Regions from separate parts of the Homo sapiens genome. Here all the other regions are linked to region 1. Evidence: fine-mapped expression QTL. A gene starts in region 1. Each other region holds a variant in brackets. All regions are shown on one strand. Distances are between the middles of the regions.

Region 1 (8,000 bases):
GGTGTAACTGACATACAGTAAACTACACATAAAGTTTACCATTTCATGAGTTTAAAACACATCCCCAGAATCGTCTCCAAAATCAAGACAGTGAACATACTCATCATCCTCTGGAGTTTCTTTGTATCCCTTTGCCATCTGTCTTTCCTACCCACTTTGCCCCTTTCCCCCAGCCTCAGGCAACCACTGATATGCTTTCGGTCACTATACATTTGTTTGTATTTCTAAAAATTTTATATAAATGGAATCATATAATATGTACTCCTTTTTTCAAGAGTCTTTCACTTAGCATAATTACAGACTCATTCACATTTTTCTGCATATCAATAGTTCATTTTTTTAATTGCTGAATAATACTCCACTGTATAGATACACCACAATTTGTTTCTCCATTTTACAATGAATGGGCAAATGGGTTGTTTCTATTTTTTGGCTATTACAAATAAAGTTGCTATGATGAATCTTATACAAATCTTTTCTGAACTTACGCTATCTTTTCTTTTGGGTAAATACCTTGGAATATGTTTCGTATGTGTTTAACTTTTAAAGAAACTACCAAACTGTCTTCCAGAGTGGTTGTACCATGAAAGTTCCACCTGTTTCACATTTTTGCCAACAGTTGTATGGCCATTTAAAAAATTTTAGCCATTCCAATAGGTCTGTATGGTGCCTCATTATGGTTTGAATTTGCATTTCCTTAATGACTAATTATATTGAACCTCTTTTCATGTTCTTACTTTCCAACTATCTTCTTTGTTGAAGTGTCAGTTCAAACCTTTAGCTCATTTGAAAAATCGGTTGCTTTCTTTTGTTGGATTTTTAGAGTTTGTTATATTTTCTGGACATAAGACCTTTATCAGAAACGTCTTCTGCAAAGAGTCTTTTCAAGTGTGTGGCTTGTCTTTTCATTCTTTTAGCAGTGTCTTTCAAAGAGTAAAATTTTTAATTTTGATGAAGTCCAATTTATCATTTTTTTCTTTTATGGATTGTATTTTTGGTGCCTTAGCTGAGAAATTTTTACCTGAAACTCAAGTTCACACAAATTTTTCTTCTATTTTTTAAGAAGTTTTATAGTTTTAGGTTTTACATTTAGATCTATGATCTATTTTGAATTAATTTTTGTATGTAGTAAAATGTGTGGATTGAAGTTTATTTTTATTTATTTTTAATTTAATTTAATCTTTTTATCTTTGGCCAGCCTCTTAAGCCAGAGCATGCTCAGAGAGACTTCTTATTTTTATTTTTGATAAGATATCCAATAATTTCAGCACCATTTGTTGAAAAGTTATCCTTTCTCCACTGAGTTGCCTTTGCAATTTTGTCAAAAATCAGTTGTATATATATGTGTGGGTCATTAGTTCTTTTTTTTTTAAAGAAGACATGACCATTTCATAAACTTAATGAGCCATATCAGTTGTTCATTATGAAGACGTGATGCTTCGTAGTCTTGGATCCTTTCTTGAGGTTTGTGGTTTAATCTAGTTTCACAACTTGGACTAGGCACTGGCCTCAGATCAGGATAGAATTATTCCTATAAGGCCAGATAACTTTTTTTTGTTTTAGAGGGTAGAATTAATATTTGTTTGTCATTTATAATCAGATGGCAGCTGGGTATACAGTCTCCATACTTCATTTTTTTGGTAAATAAAAAAACTACAAGTTTTAAATAGCCAATGGCTCATTATGTTTTCAGACAACATGATTAGACCAATTTATTAATGGTGGCTTCAAGTTTTTCCTTATTAGCTCCAAAAACTGGAGCCCACCCACCTTTCATTCCTTTTTAAAAAACTGGAAGATGGCATGCATTTCTTCATACTCTGAAGCAAACATCCTACCCTGACAATCATCCACATCTGCCTTGAGGAACACCACGCTGGAATACTTTTCAGCAAGGGAATGAAAGAAGGGCTTGATCATTTTGCAAGGCCCACATCATGTGGCTGAGAAGTCAACTACAAGTTTATTCTTGTAGCATCCGAGCCTTCCTGAAAAGCAAACTTGCTCTTCTGCTTCACCACTTTGACTGTTGGGGTCTGATGACTGACTGTAAGAACCGATGGAAATGGATCCAAAGTGCTGGACCAAGCTTTGGCCAGAGGACCTTTGTCTTTTGGATTGTCCTCTAAGCCCTGATGTTGAACTCATTTTCTAACAGGAAGGACAGACTAGTATTTCTGTTTTCTGGTTGACTGATCTGTTCTCCTGATTGTCCTTAATGCCACATCTGGCTTTTCACTGGGTCACAACTAGCTGTGTTCTTTTCTCCCCTAAACGAAAGCTTCAGTGACTTTAGTTAATCTCGTCTCTGTCCTGAAGTATCTGAAATATGAGCCTCTTAGACCAAAGATAGGCAGTTTAATATTATCAAAGACCATGGACGTGGGGGGGAGGAAATCAGTCAAAAGTCACTTAATAAGCCACCTTAATTGAAGTGGTTTTGTCTCCTTAGGGAAATGTAAAATATTCAACTCAGCAGCTTAAAAATGTTTTTATTGAGATATAACTCACATATCATAAAATTTACCCTTTAAAGTTGCACATTTCAGTGATTTTTATTATATTCACAAAGTCGTGAAACCATCATCACTATCTAATTCCACCCTAAAATAAACCTTATACCCATTAAGCGGTCACTCTCCATTTTTCCCTCCTCCCAGCCCCAGGCAACCACTAGTCTACTTTCTGTTTCTATGGATTTGCCTATTCTGGCAAATTTAACATAAGAGGTATCATACAATATGTGGGCTTTAATATCTGACTTCTTTATTTAGCATAATGTTTTCAAGGTTCATCCATGTTGTGGCATGTATCAGTACTTCATTCTTTGTGGCTGAATAATATTCCATTGTGTGGATATACTTCATTTGGTTTATCCATTCATCAATTGATGAACATTTGGGTTCTTTCTACTTTTTGGAAATTATGAATGATGCTTCTATGAACATTTGAGTATGAGTTTTTATGTGGACACAAGTTTTCAATTTTCTTGGATATATACCTAGGAGTGGAATTGTTGGGTCATATGGTAACTCTTTATTTAACTTTTTGAGGAATTGCCAAACTGTTTCCCAAGGCAGCCATACTGTTTTACAGTTTTACCAACAATGCATGAGAGTTCCGATTTCTCCACATTCTTTTCAACACTTGTTATTGTCCATTTAAAAAATTATAGCCATGCTAGTGGATATAAAGTGATGTGTCATTCTGGTTTTGATTTGCATTACCCTAATGACTGATGATGTTGAACAACTTTTCATGTGCACGTTGGCTATGTGTATATTTTATTTGAAAAAATGTTTATTCAAATTCTTTGCCCTTATTTAATTGGCTTGTCTTTTTACTTTCTTTGTTATTATTATTATTTTAGAGATGGGGTCTTTCTGTGTTGCCTAGGCTGGCCTTGAACTCCTGGGCTCAAGTGATCCTTCTGCCTCAGCCTCCTGAGTAGCTGGGATTATGGGTGCTGGCTTATTTTTTCACTTTCTTGATAGTGTACTTTGAAGCACAAAATTTTTAGTTTTGATGAAGTCCAATTTATATATTTGTTTCTTTTGTTGCTTATGACCATCTGCTTTTTAAATTAAACTCAGAAATCCTAAAGCTTTTCCATTAAGCACAACAAATAATAAAACTATATATCTTAATTCCATGTTGTAGCAATTTAAGGGGGTGGAATTGACGTCAGGGAGAGGGAGAAGGTGGGGGTAGACTCTTTACTTGGACTTTAGACCTCAAAGTCTGAATGTTAGCAACTGCCTTTGAGCATTGAGCACATAATCATCAAGGATAACTAACTCTTTGGAAACTGCCTTAATCACTAAACCTTCAGTAGCTTTCTTCTGGAAGGGGTGAAGCCCCTGCTACCAAGAAGGAGCTCACTCTCTGCACTGCAGCAATGTTACCTAAGGACAAGTGAAAATGAAGATAAAGTGTCAGAAAAAGGGAAAGCTTTGCAGTCAGGCTGTTAGGAGTCTCCACTGGGTTCTCTGGAACTAGATGCTGCAACAGAGGTAGAAGTGCAAAGGGGAGGATCACCTGTGAGTGGAAAAGGGAGGAAGCAGTTTGGCCAGGAGGAGCTCTTGGCTTCTGATGCAGACTTGACAAAGCCTCTGCCAGTCTAACAGGGTGCTCTGAGCAAAAATTGCTTGTTAGAGGAGTTCCGCATTGGTAGAAGAGGGATGGGCCTTTGTACTACCACCTTGCTCAGCCATTGGCTAGGGGCTGCCTTAAGAAGAGAGTGACTGTGGCTTAAAAACTCAGGTGGTCCTTGAAGGAACTAATTGCTGGGGGCAAATAAAACCAACATTCTTGGTAGCAGGGGAGTGAGTCCTTTATTGAAGGGGCAATGTAAGCATGGCATCTCTGTGTCTGTCTACCACACAGACAAACATGAAGTTCAAATTCCAACAACATGTGACCTTAGGCAACCACTCTGCCTCAGTTTTTTCATCTGTAAAATGGAGAAAATGCTTTCCTTACAGGGTTGTGGGAGGATTAAATAAGACAAGAATGAACATAGTGCCTGATACAGCACAGGCATTCAATAAGTATTAGTTCTTCCCTTTCCCCCAGATGAAAATAAGCCAAGGGAACATTCTGTTCTGCAAACCAGTTCCCACCCTGCTCTTTCTAAACTTCATTTTCTTTCAATTTCCAGTAGGGGACCAAGCCTCTGCGGCAGTTTCCTGATCTTCTGGATATGCTGCCACGCTGTCCCAGGGCTGGTGGTGTCCCCTGACTTGTTCCTCTCCTGACTTTCTCAGCCTGGAGACTGAAAGCTCTCTTTGGCTGTTGGCCCTCCCAGGCAGAGTCCACTGGCTGTTAGGGTGAAATGGGGCTGATGCTTCCTGGAATCCACCAGAAGTATGCAAATTGCACCATCTCTTTCAGCTGCCTGCGCCTGCATTCCATCGAGGATTCCGGTAAGAAGAAACCATCCTGTTCCTCTTTCTAAGTGCCTCATTAAAGCTGGAGGACAAATTCCTCCTGCTTCTCTTGCCCTGGGAGGTGAGACAGCACCTGAATGGGAAGAGGAGGTTGTGCTCCGCGTGACATCATCCTTCATGGGGTACTCTGACCACAGGGACACTGGTGTCCAAGGCCCAGGTACTTCCTGTGTGCCTGATTCACTGGGGAGTCTCAACTCGTTGGGGTATAAACATGAAAAGATTTTATTTCTTCCAGTAACTGCCCTGGCTGTGCTGTGCCAGATCTCTCTTTCCTGCTGAGGAGCCGCTCCCTTAACGACATCTTGGTCTGGTTCCATAACTTTTCAGCCACTTTCGGTTACTATAACAGTCTCATTCCAGTAATTAAGACTCAGCCTCTTATATTTTTAAAACTTTCATTGCAAACTCGATTCAGAGCTCTTCTCTCCCCTTCCCTCCAGCACAAGTGAGAGTTGGGTCCTGGTTGTTTGGAGCAGTGGAGGGGAAGTAGGGCCTGGCTTGAAGATGCCTCACCTCCTCCCTCTTTGAGGCCTCAGCATCTGTATTTGGGCAGAGAGGAGGGATGGAGAGTAAGAGACCTCTTTACAGGAGTGTCCTTTTCCCCTTCCTGTTCTTTGTGGCTCTGTTAGATGCTGAAGATCTCACCCCACCCTCCTCCATCACTGAACACCACCCTTTCCCCCTCCTTCCCTCACACAGATGCACCTCTCTTTAGCCTCAACAGTGGTACAGGTGCCCAACGACCCTTTGTTGACTTGGCCATGGGTACCTGGGCAAACCCTCAGCTCCTGCCCTTCCACTGACTTCCGTGCATCTCCATGCAGAGCCACAGGGCCTGCAGGAATCCTCTCCCATAATCCTTCAAGGGCCCCACAGACCTGGGAAGGGAGAGCTGCCCCCATCTTCTTCCCAGTCATGCTGCCCCAGGGTCCTTCGAGCCCTGCCGGATGGGCTACTGTAGTGGGCCTCTTGCTTTCAGAATCTCCCAGACTCAGATGGATACCAGTCTCTACATTCAAGTGCAGTCCCAGCCCTCAAAGTAAGTTCATCAGGCATCCTGCTTTTCCTTCCCACAGTGGGGTAGGTGAACAACAAGGGCACTGGGCTGCAGTCCTAGGCTTCCAGGATGGCAAGGACTCTGACAGTGAGCTGTGCCTCTGAGGCATCAGGGAGAGTCTGGATTCCCTCTCCCCTCACACTGGGGCAGGAAAGCACCCTTATCATCTCCACAGGGGCGTGAAGGGTGACTCTTCCTTGATCTCTCTCAGTCCTGCTCCTGACTGGACGTGGGCTGGGTGCCGGTCCATTTAGAGGGTGCTGGTGCCTTGAACAGCAGTGTGTGGAGGTGGCTGGCTCCATCTGCTGGCGGCTTGCTGGTAATTCTGTGGGGTTGCTTGGCTCCTCTTGGCTGTGGGTCTAGCATAATGGGGACACACGCTAGGACATGCACAGCTGCAGGCAGTGCTATCCTGTCTCTTCTCTTTTAACCTGTGTTGAAGTTGTCCTTCCTCCTGAAAGGATTTCTTGATTAATTCCCACCATTTGACATGCTCCTTCACTGCACAACCTCAGCGCTGAGACTCTCAATTGGTAGTAAGTTCATGTGCCCGCAAGTGAAATGTCTCTTGAGTAGTTTTCATGTGTTTTGAGGATAGTTAGTGTTTATTGAGCTCTTCCATGTGCCATCTACTGTCCCAAGCACGTCACATACTTCATCTCATCTCCTCACACCACAATCCAATGAGCTAGGTACCGTCACTGTCCCCATTTTACAGATGAGAAAACTGAGATAGAAATGTTAAATAGCATCTCTAAGGTTTATAGTCAGAAAGTGATGTAAAGAGGCACGCTGAACTCGGAGCTTCTACTCTCTACCGATACTCTGTTCTGCCTACTTGGTTTCATACTGTGATCCCTCTGCCTCCTCACCTCTCCTCATCCCTTACCCTGAAAGCCTTAAATAAGTATATGTGGTTCACAGTGAAGTACTCCCCATAATATTTTTTTGTTTAGACTAACGGAATCTTCCCATTTGGGGCTTGTGCAAGAGCTGAACTAGCCCTGGTGAGATTGTGGTCAACTTACAAATGGGCCAAGCTGTGTGGTCATGTTGAAGTCATTAGCACAGAGCCTTTGGACACAAGGACAAATCCTGCTCTAACATTTTAGATTAATTTTTTCCCAGGGAGGCCTAGAATCTTGACCATATACTCCTGAGAAATACTTTTCATCTGAAAAATGAGAATCTCTATTGTTTGCATAGTGCATTTACTTTCATTGTCTCCTAGATATATTTGCAACCACTCTGAGCAGAGGGTGTTAATATCACTCTTGTTTTATGGGTGAGGAAACGGAGGCATGAAGGTTAGCAACTTGTCTGAGGTTACACAGCTTGTATGTGCTGGAACTGGGATCCACAGCCAAATCTTCTGCCTCCCCCCTGTCATGCCAAAAGGGTACCCTTACTGCCATTTGCCAAGAGCCTCAGGCTCCTGACTCCTTGCTATGGGCTCTGTTCCTCAGTGGGCATTTCCTTTCTTCACTTTTAGCCATGTCCATGGCCCTTGATCCTATCTCTTCTTCTAGCCTCCCCCCACTGGTTTTACCCACATCCTCTTCATCTTTCTCAAGGGCTGGTAGTGCCCCTTGGAGTAGGGGGACCCGACCTTGAAGCTTTCTCACTATGTCCCCCAAGGCCCTGAAGGGGCTGTTCATTGCCTTTATCGGCTCTAGTCATGGCGGATGTTATTTATTGTCAGATAAATGTATTTCCAAACAAAACAGAAAACGAACAAATAAACACAGTGACAGAGCTGTAAAAAACCCTGCCGGCTCGCTTACTTGTAGAAAAGCCTGCACAACTAATTAACCCGGGTAGACCTCTGTGGTGTTTGGAAACAAGCTTGGAATTAATATCGCCGTTCTCAGCTGCTGGAACCAGCCTCTAAATCTTTATTGGGTAGTAGCAAGAGAGAGACACAGAGAGTTATAGAGACAGTAAGAGGCGAAGATGGAAGGAGATAGAGTGACAGAGGAAGATAAACGCAG
Region 2 (10,913 bases), 120 kb after region 1:
ACCACTTTTCCAGTGGCTAGCCCGGTGGGGCTTCCATTGCTTTGTTCATTCGTTTGTAAATGTTTCTGGAGCACCTACTATGTGTCTACCACTGTGCCAGACCCTGAGGATTCAGAGATGGCTGTTGCTTCTGACGGGCGATGGCCCTGTTTAGTGCCTGTGGGTGTATTTTGCCAACTTGAGCTCATTCTAATGTGTACCATACAGGCTCTTACTGATATCAGGTGATGGGACTCAGCCTGCAGTCAGCCAGATTTTGTGCATGTGGGTAAAGAGAAGCAGGAGAGAAATTTCCTATTTCCTAGAAATTGTGTGACTCTGGACAAGCCACCTAGCTTCTCTCTGTGGCTTCTCTATCTGTGTGAAAGGTATACCTTTCCTTTGAGGAATTATAACTTTCCCATCCCATGGGGCTGTCAATCATGAGGCTTTGCCTCCTACATTGGAGGGCACTTGACACAGGCTGGCCAACCAGAGTACCCCATTCATCCATCTTGCACAATGATTCCTCTCAATGTAGGCATGGAATCCTGCCGGTGTCAGTGGGTTTTCTTCGACTGTTTCCCCACCTCCCAAACCGGCCTTTCTTAGTCGTCCTTATCTGAGTTGATGATAATTCTAGCATTCCTATTGCTCAGGCTCGAAATCTTGTAATCATTCTGGACACTTTTCTGTCAATCCACATCCCAGTCATTATTAAGTCATTTTGGCTCTATTTCAAAACATGCTCCAAATCTTACCACTGTCCCACTCTGGTGGAAGCCACCATGATCTCTGCCTGGGTTACTACAATAGTCTGCTAGCATCAGTCACGCCCCCTACAGTCAAGTCAGTTCCAGGAGCCAGTGTGAGTTTGTTGTTGTTGTTGTTGTTGTTGTTGTTGTTGTTGTTTTTGAGACGAAGTCTTGCTCTGTCGCCCAGGCTGGAGTGCAGTGGCACGATCTCGGCTCACTGCAACCTCCGCCTCCCAGGTTCAAGAGATTCTCCTGCCTCAGCCTCCCGAGTAGCTGTGATTACAGGCGCCTGCCACCACGCCTGGCTAAATTTTTGTATTTTCAGTAGAGACGGGGTTTCACCGTGTTAGCCAGGATGGTTTCGCTCTCCTGACCTCGTGATCCGCCCGCCCCGGCCTCCCAAAGTGCTGGGATTACAGGTGTGAGCCACCGTGCCACGTCTATTGTGAGCTTTTTAAAATGCATGTCAGGTCATGTCATTTCTCTGCCTCAAACTCTTCAGTGACAACCCATTTCCCTTTCTATGTGGCCAAAGGTATAATGCGCCTCCCAGTCACGCCCATTATTTCTCTGATCCTGTAATCTCTACTTCCTTCTCTCTCGCTCTGCTTAGTCACACTGATCCTTTCTTTGTGCATCCATCATGCCAGGCATACTTCCACTTCAGGCTCTGTGCATAGGCTGTTCCCTTTGCCTGAAATGCTCTTCCTCCACATACCTGCGTTGCACCCTCCTTTGCCTCCTTCAGCTCTTTGCTCCCATGCCAGCCACTTTCTCGGTGAGTTCTTCTCTACCCTCTACCTCCAATTTATAACATAACTCCTGGCACTCTTATCTCCCTTCCTTGTTTTATTTTCCTTGTGATTATCACTATGTTGCATACTATACATTTTACCTACTCATTTAGCTTTTTATTTGTTCTCCACCCTTCTTCCAATAGAACGTTTTATTCCATAAGAGCATGGGATTTACATTTGTTTTGTTTATGGCTGTATCCCTGGTGCCTGACCACGATAGGGGCTCCCTGCATCCTGTTGAAAGAATAAATAGACTTGACATATCGGCTCTGGGAGAGGGAGTCTCTGCTCCCTGCTCAGAATGAGGGCTTGGGGCTGTTCTCTCTCCCACTGTGTGGAGAGCACCTCCCTGAGTGTGTGTTCCCAGGCACAAGGAACGCAGATGGAGGCATCAAGTCCTCAAGACACAGCATGTCCTCCTGGACCTGGCCAGCTCCACCCTGGCTTCCCAATCCCTCCAGAAACCTCCTCTTTGGCATAGCTGGTTTGAGTTTGGGTTGATCACTTTCAACTGAATGAACCCTGGCCAAAAAAGTCTTGGCCCTTGGGAATCATGAGAATTTAGCCAAGTGACAGGGTCAAGACACTTGGAACAGGAGCCTGGCATTGAGGCAAGCGTTGGTATACATTCTGTGGAGTTCTTTCACCCCAGACAGGCAGGGTAGAGTATTCTGGCTATGAAAGAACACTTCTGAGAGCAGAAACTAAACTTCTTCTGCTCTGCCCTATGCAAATCTACTAAAGACAGACCTTCTCTGTCTGTTACTCAGGGCCATACAGGAAAGAAAATGCAGGCTGGTAGTTCTCACCTGATTCCAGCCCCTTAAGCCTTCCAAGACCACTGCAAGTGACACAGGGAGGAGGTGCCCTAGGCACATGAAAGACCTTGACCATGATGTCTGAAAACCTAAGCCAGGATCTTGGCTCTGCTATCCCAGCTGCATGGCCTTGAGCACGTCTCTGCATCTCCTTGGCCTCAATTTTTCTCATCTGTAAGGTGAGAGGGATGAAATAAATTACTCTCAAAGTTCTTTTCCACATAACATTCAATGGAAGCAGTAGAGCATTATGGTTAAATACGTAGACTCTGGGGCCAGGCTGCCCAAGTTCAGTTCTATTGCTTACTGCAAGCTTAACTTCTGAGCCTCAGTTTCCTCATATTAAAATGGAATACAAAATGATACCTACCTCATGGGGTGGTTATAAGAATTAAATGAATAGAACACATAGAGGGCACAGAAGTAAGCTAGGCATATACTAAGTCCTCAAAAATATTAGCTACTATTATTATTTACCATTATTGAAAGAATTTACCCTGGATCCTGGAATGATTTCTGCTTCATCTGTAAAGGTGACCCCTTCCAAAGGCAGAGCCCTTTTCCCAGGGGTTGCAGCTCCCCCATCTTTGCATGAGCACTGACCATTCTCTCCCTCTCCTGTAGTGTCTGGAGGCAGCAGAGTGCCCTGAGGGCCAGGAGTCAGCTTCCCCACCTCCGGGCTGAAGGCTGGGGCTGGCTTCACTCACTTAATTTGGAGAATTTCCATAGCCCTTTTAGCATATTTTGCTTGGGCTAGCTTATTTTCGCCAACCATACATCTTATCACTGTCATAAATTTTTATTCCTATGGACATGTCTAAACTTATGGGTTGAAATAACGTAATTTACATGCTGTTTAGTATGCAGATTGGGTTAATCTGCTTCTGCAGATTCACCACCAGGCCTGTGTAGCCTCTCTCTCCCTCCAGGACCTCAGCCTGATTTGAATATTGCATTCTGTTTTGTGTGGGGCGGTGAAAGATGTGTGGATCACAAGCCTCCCCTAGACAGCTCCAGCACCCCACTCCCTGCGCCTGCGGTCCACCCTGCACACAGCTCCCCCAGGCAGAGGCCTCCTTCCCACTGCATGTCACTCCCACAGACTCCCCATCTCAAGGCTAAAAAGCCATCAGCAACCAGGTGAGCTCTCTTTTGTCTTAGGCTGCATTCTGAGATGAGGATTTCAATGTGAATGAATCCAGGGGACATTGAACCCAGGAAGCACTGGCAGGTACAGAAGGGAAGAAAGCCAAAACAATGTGTCCTGGAGCAGGTTAACCCTGTGGGCATGTGGGCTCAGTCCCACTGGGGACTCCGGGAGATGGTTTTGAACATGACTCAGAGTTGTCCCATAGAAAGGGTGAAGAAGCCAGGGTCTTTATTCTTTAACTCCTCACCATCATTTGCTGGATCCATGGTCCTTATTCTCTAACTGCTTGCCATCATTTGCTGAGGGCTGTTGGCTGAGGGGTATTAATCCTTGCCCACCGCCCCCGTGCATCTGACCTGCCCCATGTGCAGGCTGAGGAAAGCCTTCAGGAAGGGGTGATAGGTGTTCTCAGAAGGACGTCATTGGCACTTACCTGAATAAAGAATGACAAGGAGATATGAGTGGGGTGCCCTGTTCATAGCCTCTCTTTCCCATTTTCAGCCTGATTCTCCCTCACTTCACCTAGGCTTTGTATCCATTTCATTTCCTCAAGGAGGCCTTTCCTAACTCCCCTATTTGAGACAATGCCTTCTCATGCTTTATCCTCCTTTACTGCTTGTTTTTCTATCTGTGTGTTTTTTTGTCTGAGTCATTTTAGTGTGGGAAAAGACAGTAAGCAGACAAATATTTAATATATCAGGCAGTCAAGGGCATGACAGAGAAAATTAAAGCAGGAGAAGAAGACTTAGGAATGTCATATGGGGATGGATTGCTATTTTATATGGGACAGAGGCGTGTGTCAAGGTTGTCCTCTCCAATAAGACATCAGTGAGCTGGGAGAGACCTTTAGCAAGTGAAGGAGTGAGCTGTGCAGAAGAGCTTTCCAGGCAGAAGGAACAGCAGGTGCAAAAGTCCCAAGGGGGACATATGTTTGACTCATTTGAGGCTAACATTGTGGGAGCACAGCATTTGAAGGGGAGAGGAAGGAAATGAGGAGGAAGATGGAGAGGAGAAGGAGAGGTAATAGGAGGTCTGATTATATAAGACCCTGGAGGTCTTGGTAAAGACTTTGGATCTGTGTGTTAGTCAGGGTTCTGCAGAGAAACAGAATCAACAGGGTGTATATATAAACAGACTTATTGTAAGGAATTAGCTCATGCAATTATGCGGTTTGACAAGTCCCAAGATCTGCTGTTGGCACCCTAGAGACCCAGGAGACTCAGTGGTGTAGTTCTAGTTTGCATACTGGCAGGCTGGAGACCTGGGAAGAACCAATATTTTAGTTTAAGCCTGAGGGGTGGAAAAAAGCCAGTGTTTCAGCTCAAAGGCAGTCAGGAAGGAGGAGTCCCCCTTACTTGTGGAAGGATCAGCCCTTTTGTTCTAGTCAGCTTTCAACTGATTGGATGAGGCCACCCACACTGAGAAGGGCAATTTGCTTTACTATCAACAGATCCAAATGTTAATGTCATTGAGAAACACCTTGACTGACACACCCAGAATAATGTTTGAGCAAACATCCGGGCTCTCCATGGCTCAGTCAAACTGGCACATCATACTCTGAGTGAGATTGGAAGACACTGTAAGTTTTACAGATAAGTGGTGTAATTTGACTTATGTTTTTAAAAATTACTCTGGCTGCTATGTGAAGAAAAGTCTGCAAGGGGCAAGGGTTAATCAGGGACAATTTTTCAGAAGCTATTGCTATAATTCAGGCAAGTGATGGTGGTGGCTTGGGGCAGGGAGACAGTGGGTGGAGGTGGTGAGAAGTGGTTAGATTCTAGATGTATTTTGAAGGGAAAACCTGCAGGATTCATTGATGGGTTGGAATGTAAAATGTGACAGAAGGAGAGGCATCAAGGATGATACCAACGTTTGGGGCCTGAGTAATCAGAGGGTAGGAGGTTCCATTAATTGAGATGTGGAAGACTGTTGGACCAGCTGGTTTGATCAGGATAAATCAGGTGTTAGGTTTTAAATACGTCAAGTTCAAGATGTCTGTTTATGTTTAAGCAAGAATGTAGAGCAGGCCATGGGATATGTTTGACTGGAATTCAAAACTCTGATGTAGTTTAGTTCAGTTTGGCAATCAATAAGTACTTCTTGGCCAGTCGCATTGCCTCACACCTGTAATCCCAGCATTTTGGGAGGCCAAGGTGGGAGGATCGCTTGAGCCCAGGAGTTCAAGACCAGCCTGGGTGACATCGTGAGACCAGTCTCTACAAAAAAATTTCAAACTTAGCTGGGTATGGTGGCACATGCTTGTAGTCTCAGCTACTCAAGAGGCTGAGGCAGGAGGATCACTTGGGCCTGAGAGGTCAAGGCTGCAGTGGCTGTGCCACTGCACTCTGGCCTGGGCAACAGAGAGAGACCCTGTCTAAAAAAAACAAAAACGTACTTCTTGAGTGAGTGATTATGAGACCAGTCAGATTTGTCCCATGAGTCTCCAATGACCTTCTGCATATCACTAATCCTTGTAGTCCAGAGAGGCCACCTCCAGCAGGTGACATCAGTCTCTGCTCTAGAACTAGGACTCATTAAACTGTTTGCCATGATGCTCTTGCTAATTATTTGACCTGGTAGAGACAGGTAGAATCTAGACAAG[T/C]GTCTTTCACTGGCATTGTAAGCTTTTAAAACATTCTATTGCTCCATTCCCAGATTCTGATTCAGTTGATCTGGGGTGAAACTTGTACATTGGTAGTTTCAAAAGATCCTCAAGTAATCCTCTGGATCCTAAAGCCTGTCCAGAGACTGAGAACTATTATTCTAGGGGTCTGCCTTAACTGACCTTCTGTACTTCACTGTTTGTTTGTTGTGACTTTAAAGAAAAAGTCAGCCCTTGGCTGTTCACGGTGGCTCACGCCTGTAATCCCAGAACTTTGGGAGGCCGAGGTGGGTGGATCACCTGAGGTCAGGAGTTGAAGACCAGCCTGGCCAACATGGCGAAACCCTGTCTCTACTAAAAATACAAAAAATTTAGCTGGGCGTGGTGGCAAGTTCCTGTAATCCCAGCTACTCGGGAGGCTGAGGCTGGAGAATCGCTTGAACCCAGGAGGCACAGGTTGTAGTGAGCTGAGATTGCGCCATTGCACTCCAGCCTGGGTGACAAGAGCGAAACTCCATCTCAAAAAAAAAAAAAAAAAAAAAAAGTCAGCTCTTTTGTCAAGGCTCCAGAAAAATTACAAAGTCTTAGAAAGGAGTGTTTGAAAAAAAATCCCACCAATTAGAAGAAGAAAAGTTCTGTGCAAAAAGATATTTGGTATAGCATTATTTTTAATAGTGGTAACTTAAAACCACCAAATGGAATATTATACAGCCAGAATCATTTTGTAGACAGTATAGTAACTTGCAAATATGTTATGAGAGAAGGTTAAGTAAAAAAGCAATATGCTAAAATGTGTCTACATTATGAGTGCAACCATGCAAACTTATGCATGCATATAAATAAAAGACTTTAGGGGAACAAAGAAAAATGAAAGCAGTTGATGTGTTAGTATAATAGTATAGCGGATGATGCTGCTTTCCCATTTAAATGACTGCTTTACTGTTGTTAGGGTGTTTACGTAGTGAGCAGGAGAAATAAAGAAATGGCAGTGTTGCTCCAAGCACACAGCCATATTCCCTGCCTCTCCAGGAAAGGTCCTTAGGTTTTATCTCACTATCTCTGAAACAGCGGGATCAACCTCTGGACTCACTGGGGAACCTATTCTATGTCAATTAGATGCCTAATGTATGCCAGCACTGTGCTAGCTACTGAGTTGAAACTGGGTTAGGGGATACATGAATCAGTCATTGTTCTAGAGGAGCTCACTGTAGAGATGGAGAAATTAATGTATTGTAAGCAAACCATTATAATAATTGTAAGATAATGCCATGAGTATGATGACAATGGCATGAACAAAGTTCTGTGCAAACTCAGTTAAATCTGCTCCAGGACCCCAGGGTGTTGAAAAGAGGAGGTGACATTTGATCTTAGTCTTGAAGTTAGAAAAGGGATGGGGGTAAGGGGAGTAGGGAGGAACAGATATTCCAAACAGAGTGTGTAAGGACAAAGAGCCATAAAAGGCATGGAGTGTTTAGAAAACGGCAAATAGGTTTGGATGGAATATTTATTATTTATTAATTTACTCAACAAGTAATTGTTGAGTATTTGTTGTGTGCCAGGTGTTGACTTAGATATTGGGAAGACCAAGAATTATGAACCTTGTCTATGCCTTGAATACTAATCATAATAATAGCAAATATTTATTGAGAGCTTACTAAATGCTTTATATGTATTAACCCATGTATTCTTCCTGATAACTGCTGGAGAGGGTACCATTCTTATTCTCATTTACAAATGATGAAATTGAAATTTAAGGTAAAAGACTTGTTCACAGTCACACATTTGTCATGCAGTGGCGCCCCTAGAGATCACAGTCTAGTGGAGGAAACAGACAAGGAAACATGAAAGCAGAGTGACAAGTCTAAGATGGAGGTAAGGGAGCTCTGAGTAAGGGCCTAGATGCTGTCAAAGTAGAGTTCTTGGAGAAGATGACTTAAGCGGAATCCTGGAGGATGAGTGAGCATTAGACATGGAAAGTGGGAGTGTGAGAAGGAAAGACAAGAGCTTTACAGTCATGATGGGTGATGAAGCTGGCGAGGTTGGTTGGGGCCAGTTTAGGAAAGGCTTGAACATCCTGCTACGGAGTTGAGCCTTTCTTCTATAAGTAATGATGAACTAACAAGCTTTTTTGATCTGTTTTTAATCAGGAGGCTGAGTGACTTGGGCAATGATTCAGCAATACCAACTGTGAACTCTCAATGACTTGGGCTAATGAGAAGAATGACATGGATAATCTAAAAATAATGGACAACTGGAAAAAACATCAGCCTGCTTGTGGAGCACACCAGGTCATGATTTCTGCAGTGGGGGAGGAGCTGATTTGCTTCATTCATTCTAGAACCTCTATTCTAGCTGATGTTAAATCTGGTTGTTTTTGAGAGCACTCATAGCCATCATGCCCATCTCTGTATCACAGGGGTTTGGGAAAAGAAACTCTTCTGGCCAAGGATGGAAGAATAAAAACATAACTGAGTTCCAGATATGCTAATGTTTTCCACTATTGCATCTCTAAGATATCAGTAGGACCTGGAAAGGTGGCAATGACCTCATGGCTCCCAGGTGCTGGGGTTGCTGCAATGGCTGGAGCTGAGAAAAACTTGAAGGTTTTAGAGAAGCTCTGCTTCCAAATGAAGGGTGCAGAGTAATTAATGCCCCAAGCTACATGGAGTGGCCAATTGAAGAAGCTATAAAAGTTGGAGCAGTGCAGGAAGCAACATGCCTGGGAAAGGGGATTTTTTTGCACTTTTTATTGCAATAATGCAGGAACATTCTATGAATAGAATCCAGGGGAGCCATCAAGTCCATGTTCGGGTGACTGTAAGGGGAGGGATTTTGATCCTCTTCCGAGACAGCTGTCTTCAGGCTCAGGCACAGATCACATTATTTTATTAGAGCCTTCAGTAGTTAAGAGAAAGTTCTTGGTTGAATTGGGAAAGGGACCTAAAAATAACTGTAAAATTTTGAGCTAGCTCTGCCCCTTTCTGTACTAGATACAATCCTGGATGTAGAGAATCAGAGACTTGAGGTTAAGACCTAGCTCTGGCACCAACTTGGACAAGTCACATCACCTATCTCCACCTATCTCCTTCACTGTGAAATGAGAGGATTGGAATAAATGATATCTAAATCTCCCCTGGCCTCCATTGTTTCTGCTTTGTGGATGCCGTTTTATGGATTGAGAAATCAAAGTCTATTGATGAAAATGATTGCAATGTGCAGATTCACTTGGAACACAGAAAGACTCAGAGAGCTGGTCAGTACCAAAGGAGGTTGGAGTGCTTTGCCTTGAATGCAAGAAATAACGATGTGCAATGTCATGGAGAATTTTAAAACAATAATAGATACAAGAAAAAGTCGGTCTGCTTTTTATTATCACCATGCACTGACAGTTCTAAGCAATGTCAGTGATAAAATATTCCTCACCTTGATGGACAACTCTCCCCATCCTCCATCCTTGGTATACCACTGTTTATCTGTACAATTCTCTTTTTATTCAATGCTCTTTCAATTCCTCTCACTACACAGGAAGAAAATCTCTTTAAGGAGCTCTTTTTTTTTTTTTAACATTTTTCTTTCTCTCTCTTTCTTTCTTTTTCTTTCTTTCTTTTTTTTTAACCACTTCTTAGCATTGATTTATCCCTAGTAAAGAAGAATGATGAATTACTTTGAGTTACTTCTTTAGTAAGAAAGGTATGCTATAGGAGAGAACTGGAAAGGGACCAAGGAAGCAGGGACAATAAACATGGAGAGACCAGAATATGGAATGAGGTGTGGAATGGGTACAGAAGGCTGGGTGGCTTGTGGGTCAAGTCCTGAACACATGGCTTGTGGACAGGGTGTGGACAGCTCCCTGAAGGCCCAGGTTAGGTTGGGCATGTGGTGCATGAAAACAGACCCTGCCTGCCTCTCAGCTCAGATTTCTCAGATTTCCAGCACCCCGGCCCTTTCCTGGGGCTTCCCCTTGCCTCCCCTCAGGTGGATTTCCTAAGAGTGAACCCTCTGTACTACACCTGCAGTCACACCACTCGCCATCCTTCTCTGAGTTGGATTTCCTCTCCACCCTGCCCTGGTGTCTAGAATATGAAAAGGCTTTGCCACCCTGGGGACTTGCATATCCTGCATTGGTGCCTCCCTTTTGCAGGCCTGGCCCCCTTGGTGTTCAACCTTCTGCGAGCTAGCACCTGCTGCAGGGTGCATTTGCGTGCTCCAAGGAGCCATTCCTGTGACAAAATAATCTATGCACATTCTTTGGGGGCTGAATGGGCTGCTCTGGAGAACAACAGAGGGGACCCCCAGAAAAATATGAGTGTGGTGGAGGAAGAGGCTGAAGGCAGGGTGTTAACCCTAAAGATAGAGATCTTTGTCCTCTCAAATTAAATAAGAAGTTTTGGGTTTTTGTTTGTTTGTTTGCAAAGTGAGAACCCAGTTAGTAGCAATTAAATTGACAACCCAATTCAAACCAGTCCAAACTGAAGCCATGAGGGCCAAGTTCTAGTTTCTTACAGATTTACAATTTGCTAAATTTTCTCTTTGACACACACATCAGACACATATTCCCTCTGGCACATTCAGTTTCTAATTGTTATCCTAAGATGATTTATTTATTCTTACAGGAAGAGAAAAGAAAGGGGCAGCTTTTACCGAAGTTTGTCTTATTTCTTTCACTCTTTCTTTTCTGATTATAAAAGCCACACATGTTTACCATAGAAAGCTTAGCACATGAATATTCTAAACAGAGATAAATACTTCCTATCAACCCCATCATTCAGAGATGACCACTCTCCATTTGCAGCTGTGGTTGACATGGAATCG
Region 3 (10,913 bases), 110 kb after region 1:
ATCTTAAGCTCATGGAAGGGTGCTGACTTTGCTGTGGTACTCAGCAGATAAGTGGCAGATCCAGGAACTTGGATGCTCAATGCTCTCATATGCCAGTGTCAGTGGCTAAGATGGAAACATCTTTTATTGAATATCTTTCAGTACAACCCTGCTAATGAGGGGAATGAACAAAGTGGCTTTGGAAGGGCTTGGTCTCTATGTTGTTAATTATTCAAGGCAATATACTTAGAAAAAGGATGCAGGATTCTGAGAATGTAATTGTTAAAAGTCCTTAAGAACCCTACAGACTATAGGTATCTGGCCAATCAGGTTCTTTCCAGCCCAGGACTGTAGCCATTTGGCATCTTCTTCAAGTGTACATGACTAAGAATCAATGGTGATGAGGTTCTTTCCATTATATCTCCTTCATTTTGCAGAGGCTCAGGCATAATAAATGGGATGGAAATGTCTGCCAGATGAAAATTAGGACTATTTGCCATAAACACGTCTTTCCCCCACCACTCTCTGCCAATATAGGAAGAGATCCAGAAAGAGAATGAAGAAATGAGTGACTCAATTCAGATGCAACAAGAAATAAATTTCACAAAGTCTCCTTCTCTTCTTGTGCTTTTCTAGCAGCTGGATTCTTTTTGGGCTTGACTTGTGGCAGCACAGCTGTTCTAAATTTCTGGCCATTTTTGTATGTCTTAGAATCACTTTCTGCATAGTTCTTTTAGAATTTACTCCTTTATACTTATGAAATTAAAACATCCTCATTAAATTATGAACATCCATTCAACTCTCATCCATCCAATCATACCACTGCTCATCTATTTAATTAACCATCTGTTTATCCATCCATCCATCCATCCACCCATCTGCCCATCCATTCATCTAACAAATTAGCACATAAAATCACTGTATTAGGTGCTGTGGGAGACTCAAAGACCACTAAAATGCAGTCTCTATGTTAGTCAGGGTACAAATCAGAAGACAGAGATCACTTTAAGTATTTATAACAGTGAGAATTTAATACAAGAAACTAGTAATAGAAGAGTTGGGAAGCCAAACAGGAAACTGTATGGGAATGCAGAAATCAGCAACCCTTGGAAGACACTACCACCTTAGGTTGGGGAGACAAAGGGAGGGTGAGATGTTACCAGAGCCCAGAGGTTGAGGTCATTAGGTGGAAACTGGGACCATGGCGGAAGTGTTCAGTGTGAACTTGAACCAGGGTAGATGTGTCTAGTGGGACATGGAGGAGTCACAGCTGCTGAAGAGGCAGTAGTTGAAACAAAGAGGGAGAGGGAGAAATATCCTGACTTCTCCATTCCTCCTCACCTCTAGTCCTCTGAAAGTACCTCCCACTGGCTGAATCCAGCCAGAAATCTGGGAGATGCAACTTGCATGGCCCAGTTTCCCCTGTCCTCACCATAACACAGAATAGAGCAAAGAAAGGGTGAAGAATGTATCTGAGGGTAAACATGTGCAGTACTAGCACAGCCTCAGTTCAAGGGTTGGGGAAGGAGAGTCCAGGATCTTTCTTTGCTCAAATGCTAGTAAAATCTCTCTGATTTTAGAATAGCTTCATGAAGGAAATGGGAACTTTGCTAAAATAACCCAATGATCCTTTTAGGAATCCAGTAAAACACTGAGTACTCTTTCCAACATGACTACCCTCTGGAAGGGCTGTGATTAGGGACTTTTTTTTGTCCCTAGGGACAGAGCATAGTGGTCCTTCTGCCCCATGCCCAGTGCCCAGTAAATGTTTGTTCATGATGCTTGGTCATCACCTACCACACCAGGCCCTGTGTATTCCACATTCCTGTCAAACCAAATCACTCATACTTGTTTATATGATTTTGCATTGGCTGCAGCTGTTCTCTCTGCTAGAAGATTCTCATGCCTCTTGTCTCCTTGGAGAATTCTTACTCATCCTTTGATAACCAGATCAAGTGTCACATCTTCTGTGAAGACTCCTTGGGTCCTGCCTCTATGTTCCTCTAGCAGTTTCTTCATCTCTCCATGACTGCACTCAGCATCATGTGCACTAGTGGCTAGTTGTCCATGTGTCGGTCTCTTCTACTAGTCAAGAATTCCTGGGGAACAGGGACCATGTATTAACCACCTCTCACCCACACAGAAGTATAGCACAATGTCTGGTACAGAGTAATTAATAAATTTTAGTTGAAGGATTGGACATATCATCATTGTCTATGTGCAAAAACATGTAGCTGGCTAATTAAAACCTCTCTCCTCTGAGGCTCTCAATCCTTCCTACCTCCCTCAAGGGTGATGATGATTAGTTATTGAGGTAACTAGGGAGGTTGACCAAGTGAATCTCCAACCCTGGCTTTCCCATGCATGAGACCCTAGAAATACCGCCTGGAAAGAAATTCCTAGAGAAGGTGGGTCTGAGGGCTGTGAGCTGTTACTGGTACATTCCTTTTGATGTTTTAGAAATGTGTCTTCTTAGTCCAGCCCAGCCCATCACAGCTAAGCAGAGTTTTTGTCTGTTTTGAACAGCTCACACAGGTTTTTAAGCTTGATCTTGTGGGTGCATTTTTAGATATAGGAAACAAGATCCTTTCTCCCTTCCTCCTCTATATTTTATTCATTTTTTTTTTCCCCTGCCAAATGATAGACCTCCTCTGCCTGCACTTGGCTTTGGCCAGAACTTTGGTGTCTTGACCTGCTCTAGTGGAGAAAAGCACTATTGGGTTGTCTCTTTCAGGGCACCTGGCCCCTTTCTGAGTCCTACAACTTTTGAGCTCATTGATTGATTCTCATTCTTCCCCATGGCACTCCCACAGCCAAGGGGGCAGAGGATCTGGATAGGAACCTCCTATTGTTCAGGTAAAATATTAATATCAACAACGACTAACATCATTCTTCTTAAGAGTGTCAATCTTTTCTTTTTAACCTTCAATGCGTTCTCAGATAGTTCTGTAGAACAGAAGGAGAAGCTGGTAACTGTCAGCCACTTTATGGTAGATAAATCGAGGCCGGGAGAAGAAAAAAAATCACAGTAAGAGGCAGTGAGCAGAACCAGATGATGAGGTGGGTTCCTGAGTCTCAGCCCACGGGGCCACCTGTGTTGTGGAAAAGTTAAAAATGTACCTGGAATTGATCTCAGGTGCTGTCAGGCGAGGAGCCTGGACCCAGACACAGGACTGGGGAAGAGCCCTTACCTCAGCTGGTGATGGAGTCAGGGGACGGGGTCCTTCTGAGGTTTCTGCACAGCCCCTCCTCCACATCTACCTTCTTTCGCCTGCTGGTGAGAGGTGGGAGATGAGTAGTGAAGCTAAGATTGTCACTGGGACCAGATAATGACAATCTTAGCTTCAGATTTCTCTAATCTTGGTCTTATTTGTGTTTGTGGCCTTGGGCAAATTATATCACTAAGTTGGATTTCGCACCTGTAAATGGAGAAAATTCCTACCTAAAAGCTGTTTTGAGGGTTAAATGAGATAGGGAGTTTAGCCATGTACCTAGCACATAGTAAATATCAAAGAGGGAGTATTTATAATGATGATGATATTTGTCATATCAGCTCACTCCCTCTCACTTGTCCCTGGCCCTTTCCTCAGCTTTGGGGCTGGGCTTCATCTGCAGCTGCTGCTGGGCTGTCTTCTTTGTCATTTCAGGCCAGTCATAGAAAGCCTGCAGCTCCTGAGCTCAAACTCATGGGTTTCTTCCACGATCTTTTGTTTCCTAGTCTCTCTCCCTGTAGTTTCCAGTTCCCAGTTACAGGCAGACCTCCTGGGAAGACGGTTGAGAGGAGGAGGTCTCAGGAGTGAAGGGGGAAGGCTGGGCTCTGTGGACAACGGCAGGAGAGGGAAAAGGATAGGGTTATTCAAAAGGAAGGAGAGGCCCAGGGTCACTGTTTTGAAATGAATGTGTGTGTGTATGGGGTAGAGAGAGGGTGTGGTAAAGATGGTAAGCACTGTTGCTCAGTTAACTTGGAAATAAGAAAAAGCTACCAGAATCTTCAGCTAAGCATTAAAACAGAAAAGGATCATAGAGAATGGAGTGATGAGAGAACAGCTAGACCCAATCTCTGGAAAGTGTAAAGCAGCTGGGCCCAATTCCAAGGCCTATTCTTCCCATACCTTTTCCTTTTGGGGGTGCCTCTGCCAGCCCCCACCACCTTCCAGTAAGTTCTGCTCCTAATATTGTAAATTGCTCTGATTTCCGTCTTGGTAGGAATTGACCTCACTTTCATATTTTCCAAGGGTACTTGTCCTACAGAGTGTCTGGCTCCAAGCACCAGGCCTTCATCATTATCTCCCACAGTGGGGCTTCAAGGTGGCCCTGGCTGTGCTCTCTTTATGTGATTTCCTTTTTTTTTTTTTTTTTGAGACAGAGTCTCGCTCTGTCACCCAGGCTGGAGTGCAGTGGTGCGATTTTGGCTCACTGCAACCTCTGCTTCCCGGGCTCACGCCATTCTCCTGCCTCAGCCTCCCGAGTAGCTGGGACTGCAGGTGCCTGCCACCATGCCCGACTAATTTTTGGTATTTTTAGTAGAGTCAGGGTTTCACCGTGTTAGCCAGGATGGTCTCGATATCCTGACCTCGTGATCTGCCCGCCTCGGCCTCCCAAAGTGCTGGGATTACATATGTGATTTCCTGAGAATCTCTTTATGTGATTTCCCTCCTGGGCGTAGGCTCAGACACTCACTTCTCTCTGCCACATCCTTGTGCCATGTACTATTTCCCTTTTTCACTTTTATTCCTGGGGTGGTTGGAGCTGGGCTTTGCTGCTGAGCAGGCCTGGCCTTCACTGCTCTCTGGGGAAGGTCAGATCTGGCTGCCTGTGGACATTTCCGGGCCATTTGACAAATGGGTCCATGTAAATGGGGGTGGCAAGTGGCTGGCAGGGAGGGCGGGGATGAGATAAAAGGGTGGCTCTCCTTGCCCTCACTGAAAGGTTTGGAAATTCCACAGTCATGGATTCTCCTCCCTTTTCCACTCCAGTCCTCAGCTTTCTTTCATCATTGTCATTTCCTCTCTGTTCCTCCACTTCCAGCAATGACTTAGTGGCTCTCAGAATAACAAGTGTCTTCAGGGATGCCTACAGCTAGAGAAGTTTGGCGTCTTATGATCTCTAGAACATGCCCTTGCAGGGACTCCAGATGTTGGTGAGCCAAGATACCC[C/G]CCGATGTGTTCTTTGAACTGGATCCCAGCCAGGGTTGGGGAAGAGGCAGGGTTGCCCTGTGCAGGGCTAGGGTGGAGCAACATATCTGCAAGATGATGAATCATGCTCCTGGACGCTGGCTTACCAATCCTTTGAGAATGTCTGAAGACAGAGGGTTCTTGTTTGGCACTATATATACGTTGGCTATGGAAATGGGTGGAGGAGGTCACAGCCTGGCCCATTTATGTGGCAGTGTCCACACTTCTCCCTAGATTGGGCTGCTCGGATATGCAAATATCTTCAGGGCTGTCCGCAGTATCTATGTTTTTTTATGAAACAGCATGTTTCACTGGCATGGATACTCAGGAACTAGATTTGAACTCACCCATTGGTCTGCACTATTCTATAAAGATCTGAGTTTGTAAATCTATTTCTAAAAACATTAGGCCTCTTCCCCAATATGTCCTCAAGAGTTGTGCTGATCTAACCAGATCCATAACCCCTGGGAAGCTCCCAAATTTGAAACATCACTAAAATCCATCCAAGGATCAAAAATCTGAGTCTGCGAGCAAGAACTTCCAAATGAACTGGCATCTTGTCTGGTAATACACAAGCTCTGGACCTATGAAAGAAGGCAGAGTGCAATGGGGCAAGACAGTGGATTTCCCTGGGTTCAGGTCTGAGATACTCTCAATGGTTCAGGGCTCGAGCCACATCTTGGGACACAGTACGACCCTGTAGGCTTGGGCAGACACTGAACTAGACCCATTTGTGGGGAGGGGCACATCTGGAGGAAACAACTGCTGTGAGTAAGTACCTGAGGCAGGAAGCAGTGGCTTCATCCAGCAGTCCGCATGGGTAAGGATGTAGGGCAAGGGAGGGGACAGCTCTGGTGAGAGGCCTTCTGAGAGGTGGGTTTCACAGAAAGACAAGGAATCCAGCTCATGTGATTCTTGGAGGCCAGACAAGCATGTGGTTGTCATCAAGTACATTTCCCTACGTTGCTTCTTACAGCATTTACTTATTTATAACACTCTGTCATCTCAAAAGCAATCTCATGTGGCTTTATTATATAGATGTTATTAAAATTGTTCTTGAGCTTTAAATCATTAATGTGAAATGCCCAGTATAGACTGGGATTGCAAAAACAACTATAAATAGATCCATAAATTGAACCAGAACTCTATTTTTTAAAGCTTTTAATTTTGATATAATTTCATATTTACAGAAAAGTTACAAAAATGCCACAAAGAATTCCTGTTTAGCCTGTACCTAGGTTTACCAGTTGTTTTCATTTTGACCCATTTGTTTCATGATGTTATTAGGTACTCTTGAAAGCCAAGGGCAACACTCTAACTCTCAGGCCCAGGCTCAGGAAATGGGTGGAAGAGGTCACAGGCTGGCCCATTTATGTGGCAGTGTCCACACTTCTCCCCAAATTGCGCATCCTCAGGGCTGTTCACACTATCTCTGTTTTTTCATGAAGCAGCATTTTTCACTGACATGGATACTCAGCAACTAGATTTGAACTCACCCATTGGTCTACACTATTTTATAAAGGAGGGAAGTGTTCGGGGGTTAGAGGGGACATGTGATCAGAGGCGAGGTGGTCCTGGAGAGACAGGGGACAGGGCAGGTCAGCAGAGTAGCAGAAAATGTGCTGAGGCAGAAAATGTCACTGAGGCAATTTTCCAGAGGGATGGGGTCACTGAAAGATCAACATGCCCAATTCTAGCTCTGTGATCTTGAACAAAGTGCTAAACCTTTCTGAGCCATTATTTCCTCACTGGTAAGTAAAGAGATTAACATCTACTTCGTTGGGCTTTATGGAATAAGCTGGTGTGTGTAAGGTATCTTACAGTGCCCAGCTCACAATGAGTGCTCAATCATGGTAGTTTTTAATAATGATGAAGATGACGATGGTTAGAATAATAAAAAGAATACCTCGTGAGGTGGAGATGGGAGCCAGAGGCTGGGACCAGCTTGATGCAGCAGGTGGGTTGCTGGTTTTGCCTGCAGACCAGGGAGGAGCACACAGACCTGGATCCCAGGCGGGATTCATGGTTCCCTGGGCATGATGGGGAAGCTGCTGGCGTGGGGAGGACCACGTGAAGAATTCTTCAGCATGAGAGAGCCAAGTTCCTCTGGCCAGGCTCTAGAGGTTGGAGATCTTGGGTAAGAAAAAATTAAAACTGACAGCCATAGAATGCCCCTCTTTTGGCCTGAGGAAGGATGAATTGAATATTTGAGATGCTGGAAGCCCTCCTACATGGTAAGTTCAAAGAACTGAAAGTGTCTCGCTTCTCTGAGGATTCCAAACAGACTTTGCTAAAATGTAATTAAGTTCCAAGTCCCTGGAAATCAATCATGCTCCCAGGAACTAATACCTTGGCTTGTTGATTAGAAGTGAGGGGGAGCCAGGGGCAATTACTCTCTGAGAAGCAAATTCTTGGCTCAGAGATCCAAATGCTCAGAGATCCAAGGACAGAGAGCTGAGGGTGGGGGTGGAGGGTGGGAGTGGGGGTAGGTGTGGAAGTGGAGTTAGGAGAAAGGGTGATGAAGCAGTCTCTGGGAACTGCGGCTAATTACACATGACCTGTTTCTTTGGGCTAAAGTTCTTCATTGGCTACAAAGCCCATCTCCTGATCTATACTTGAGTCTCAGGAGCTTTTCTTTATATTGGGAAGAGACTGAATAGAAGTGATCACTGGATCGCAGGGCTCAATGAGGCCAGCAGTCATTATTTAATGCGTTTCGCTCCTGCCAAGCCAGAGGGAGAGCAAGTGGAGAGACAAGACAGACTGCCAGTTAGCCCCTTGTTGAGAGGCTCCTGAGTGCCCAGCCCTGCCCTGGGCTTGGTACTTGCTCCCAGAACTTGACAAGCATCCCTCTGAAAGGGGTAACACTGATCAGGAATGCAAGAGCCCTGGGTCCAGCCAGAGTTCTGCCTTGAACCAACCACATGACTTTGGTCCAGCTGGCCTTCTGGCCTCAGTTCCTCACCTATAGAATGAAAGGTTTGGACCACACAATCTGTAAGGTCCCTTCCAGCACAGACACTCTTCTCTCCAATTCTTTGCCACAGAGGAGGGGATGGAGGACGGCCTGGTGGTTGAGAGCCAGGGTAAATGCAGAGAGAAATCGGAGAGAGAGAGTACAAAGAGATGAGTTAGATGCAGTAGAGATGATGGATTGAGGGTTGAGGACTGTGTACAGACTCAGAAAACTCAGTCTGCATAGCACATGATGCTGGCTCTGCAGCTGAGGCTCCTGGAGGGCTGAGAGGACAGCAGGGGAAGGGGAGTGAGTCCCATTGTGACCTGAGTACTGATCAGCCTGGTGCTAGATCTCTCAAACTAGAAGAGCAGGCCCAGCTTCATTCAGACCCAGGCCGAACTGTCTGAGCTGCCCTTCTCCAGCTCATGCCTCTGTATCTGGACATGCTGTGGGGAGTGAGGGTAGAGAAAAGGAGAGGAGGGTAGTCAGAAACCCTTTCAGAAGCAGTGCCTCAGTGTCCTTCTTCTTTTGGGGTCTAGGGCAGCTTCAAGTGGGCTCCAGATCTAAAGCCTGCTGATTGTCCATGAGCGGCCTGTGGCAGGGCAGCCCGAGGCAGAGAAAGAGACTAGGCTCAGAGGCAGAGGCTGAGCAGAGGCTGCAGGATGGGCCTGAGCCTAGTGTCAGTGGTGCACCTGACCCAAGGCATCTGTGGACACTTGGCTGTCTATGATCCAAGGCCTGGGCTGGACGGGCCTCAGAGGGTGTGTGTGAAAACACTGGGAGACACTTCAAAGCCCTTGCTATAAACAATGTGAAAAGAAAATCACCATTGTTAACCTTCAAGCCTGGACTCCTGAGCTCCTCTGTCTCCCTCAAGTGGGTTGGCCCCATGCCCTTAGGCAGAATGCAGAAGGCAGCAGCTCCTGTCTCTGAGAGTTTTCGTTCTGGGGTTTCCTCCAAAATTTTGGGCTGGATATCCCTTTGCAGATGAAGCAACTGAGCTTGTCCCACTGAAATGAGTGGCTCAGGGGATTGGTTAAAAGCAGGGACTTGGGAGTCACAAGGACTTTGGTTTGAATCCCAGATCACCCACTTATTAGCTGGGTGACTTAAGGCGATTTCCTTATAATAGGAGACTCATCCTCTCATCTGAAAAATGAGGACAAAACTAATATCCTCCTCATAAAGCTGTTGTGAGGATTAAATGGATCATCTATGTAAAGAGCTTAGCACAGTATCCGGTTCATAATAAGAGGCTGTTAATACTACTGCTACTACTACTATTATTATTATTATTAAGTTCCTGGCAGAGCCAGACCTAGAATTCAGGTCACCTTACTCTAGGTAAGTGCTATTCTGTAACTTCACCTTGGCCTGAGCTGTTTTGGGTTCCTCAGAGGCAGGGCGATGATTGAGATGAACTCTGGACCTTTGAGCTTCAGAGCAGTTCTCCTGGTGTCTGCACTCAACTCTACCTGGGTAGTTCTATATCCCCTACTTCCATTTCCCCACCTCTCAGAGCCATATATGAGTGGGCTGAAGGCCTTCTGACCTCCCCTTTCACACATGGCAGCTGCCTCTCACTGGGCACACCTGAGTCTTTCTCCTGACCTGCTGTTTGTTCTGGGCCATTGAGGGCTGTTTGCTTTCCTAAGCCAAGCTGCCAATGGCCAATTTTCCATGAATCATAATCGCCTTACCCCATTAGGCAGGATAATTAAGATAGGATGGTGGGCCGTTTGCTCAGCACACACAGGAATCAACAGCTGTCCTGGCTCTCCAGAGAACCCCAGTATCTGTCCACAGCTGCAGCTGCCTCTCTCCCCATGAAACCTGGCATCATTCCCCCACCCTGGGGGATTGGAGGGGGTGGCAAACTGTCTACAGTCCCTGGGGTCCTTCAGGGAATTCCACAAGGTATTACTGAGCACAATTGCAGGAGATGAGCTGCCCAGTTTGCTGAGAGCTGGTTGTAACTAACATTTACTGGTATTAATTTACATCCATTGAATACCTCCTGTGTGCCAGGCCCCATGCTAAACATATTACATAGATGATCTCATTTAATCCTCACAACAGCCTTCTAACATTGCTATTGTTATTAACCCCAATTTACAGATGAGAAAACTGAGGCTGTCAGAGGTTAAATAAAGTACTCAAAGATAGAGCTGGGATTTGAATTTTGGCAGTCTGACTCCAGAGTCTACGCTCTTAATTGCCTCTTCTTTGTCTATGTGTAGGAAGTACAAATGTTAAATAGTTTTTCTTCTTTTTCACCATTTTCCTAAATAGTATTTTTATCTACAAATTCCATTCAGGCAACTCCTGCCTTGGAGGGCATGGTGCTGAAACCTTGGTTATTCTGTAATTAACAGAAGGTTACAGATCCCCTAGCTCCTTGGTTATATCCTGAAGACAGTTAAATGAAGAAAGCTAAAAATGTTGAAGGAAAAATAATACTGTGTTATGAAACCAAAGAGAAATCACTTCGAGGTATGTGTTGTTTTTGGATTATCCATCAATGTGGATAATCAAGAGCTGACTATATTTTTATGCACAACTTAATCTGCACCTTCTAAACAACTTCTGCAGTACAATTTTGGACAACAAATTGTTTCAGATGAGAGATTCTTGCTCCTCCTTGAAAACCATTCTTCATTTAGAATTATCCTCGCTGCCAGCCATCAGGGCTGACAAGAAAGCAGAGACTTAAGCTGTTGCTACAAATCCTGGCCCTTGGCTGTCCCTCATTTGCTCATCACAGATTCTCTTTGTATCTCCTCCTTCAGGAGATGTCCTGA

The links. PIP is the estimated chance that this variant, and not a neighbour inherited with it, causes the effect.
Region 2: its variant is fine-mapped to the expression of LINC02884 in whole blood (INTERVAL, PIP 0.99).
Region 3: its variant is fine-mapped to the expression of LINC02884 in whole blood (INTERVAL, PIP 0.99).

What each region holds. Positions count from the first base shown.
Region 1 is chr1:112,357,287-112,365,286 of GRCh38, reverse strand. It overlaps LINC02884 (long intergenic non-protein coding RNA 2884), which reads left to right and starts at 4,680. Exons shown (of 2, transcript NR_183466.1): 1 at 4,680-4,925. It also overlaps the pseudogene TXNP3.
Region 2 is chr1:112,232,235-112,243,147 of GRCh38, reverse strand. It overlaps LINC02884 (long intergenic non-protein coding RNA 2884), which reads left to right. Exons shown (of 2, transcript NR_183466.1): 2 at 8,249-10,913. Among named protein-coding and RNA genes, the nearest start is that of LINC02884, 120 kb to the left of the region's middle. The variant T/C (reference allele first, on the strand shown) is at 6,102.
Region 3 is chr1:112,246,248-112,257,160 of GRCh38, reverse strand. The region is part of intron 1 of LINC02884 (long intergenic non-protein coding RNA 2884); the gene reads left to right. Among named protein-coding and RNA genes, the nearest start is that of LINC02884, 110 kb to the left of the region's middle. RefSeq lists an enhancer at 4,687-5,886. The variant C/G (reference allele first, on the strand shown) is at 5,136.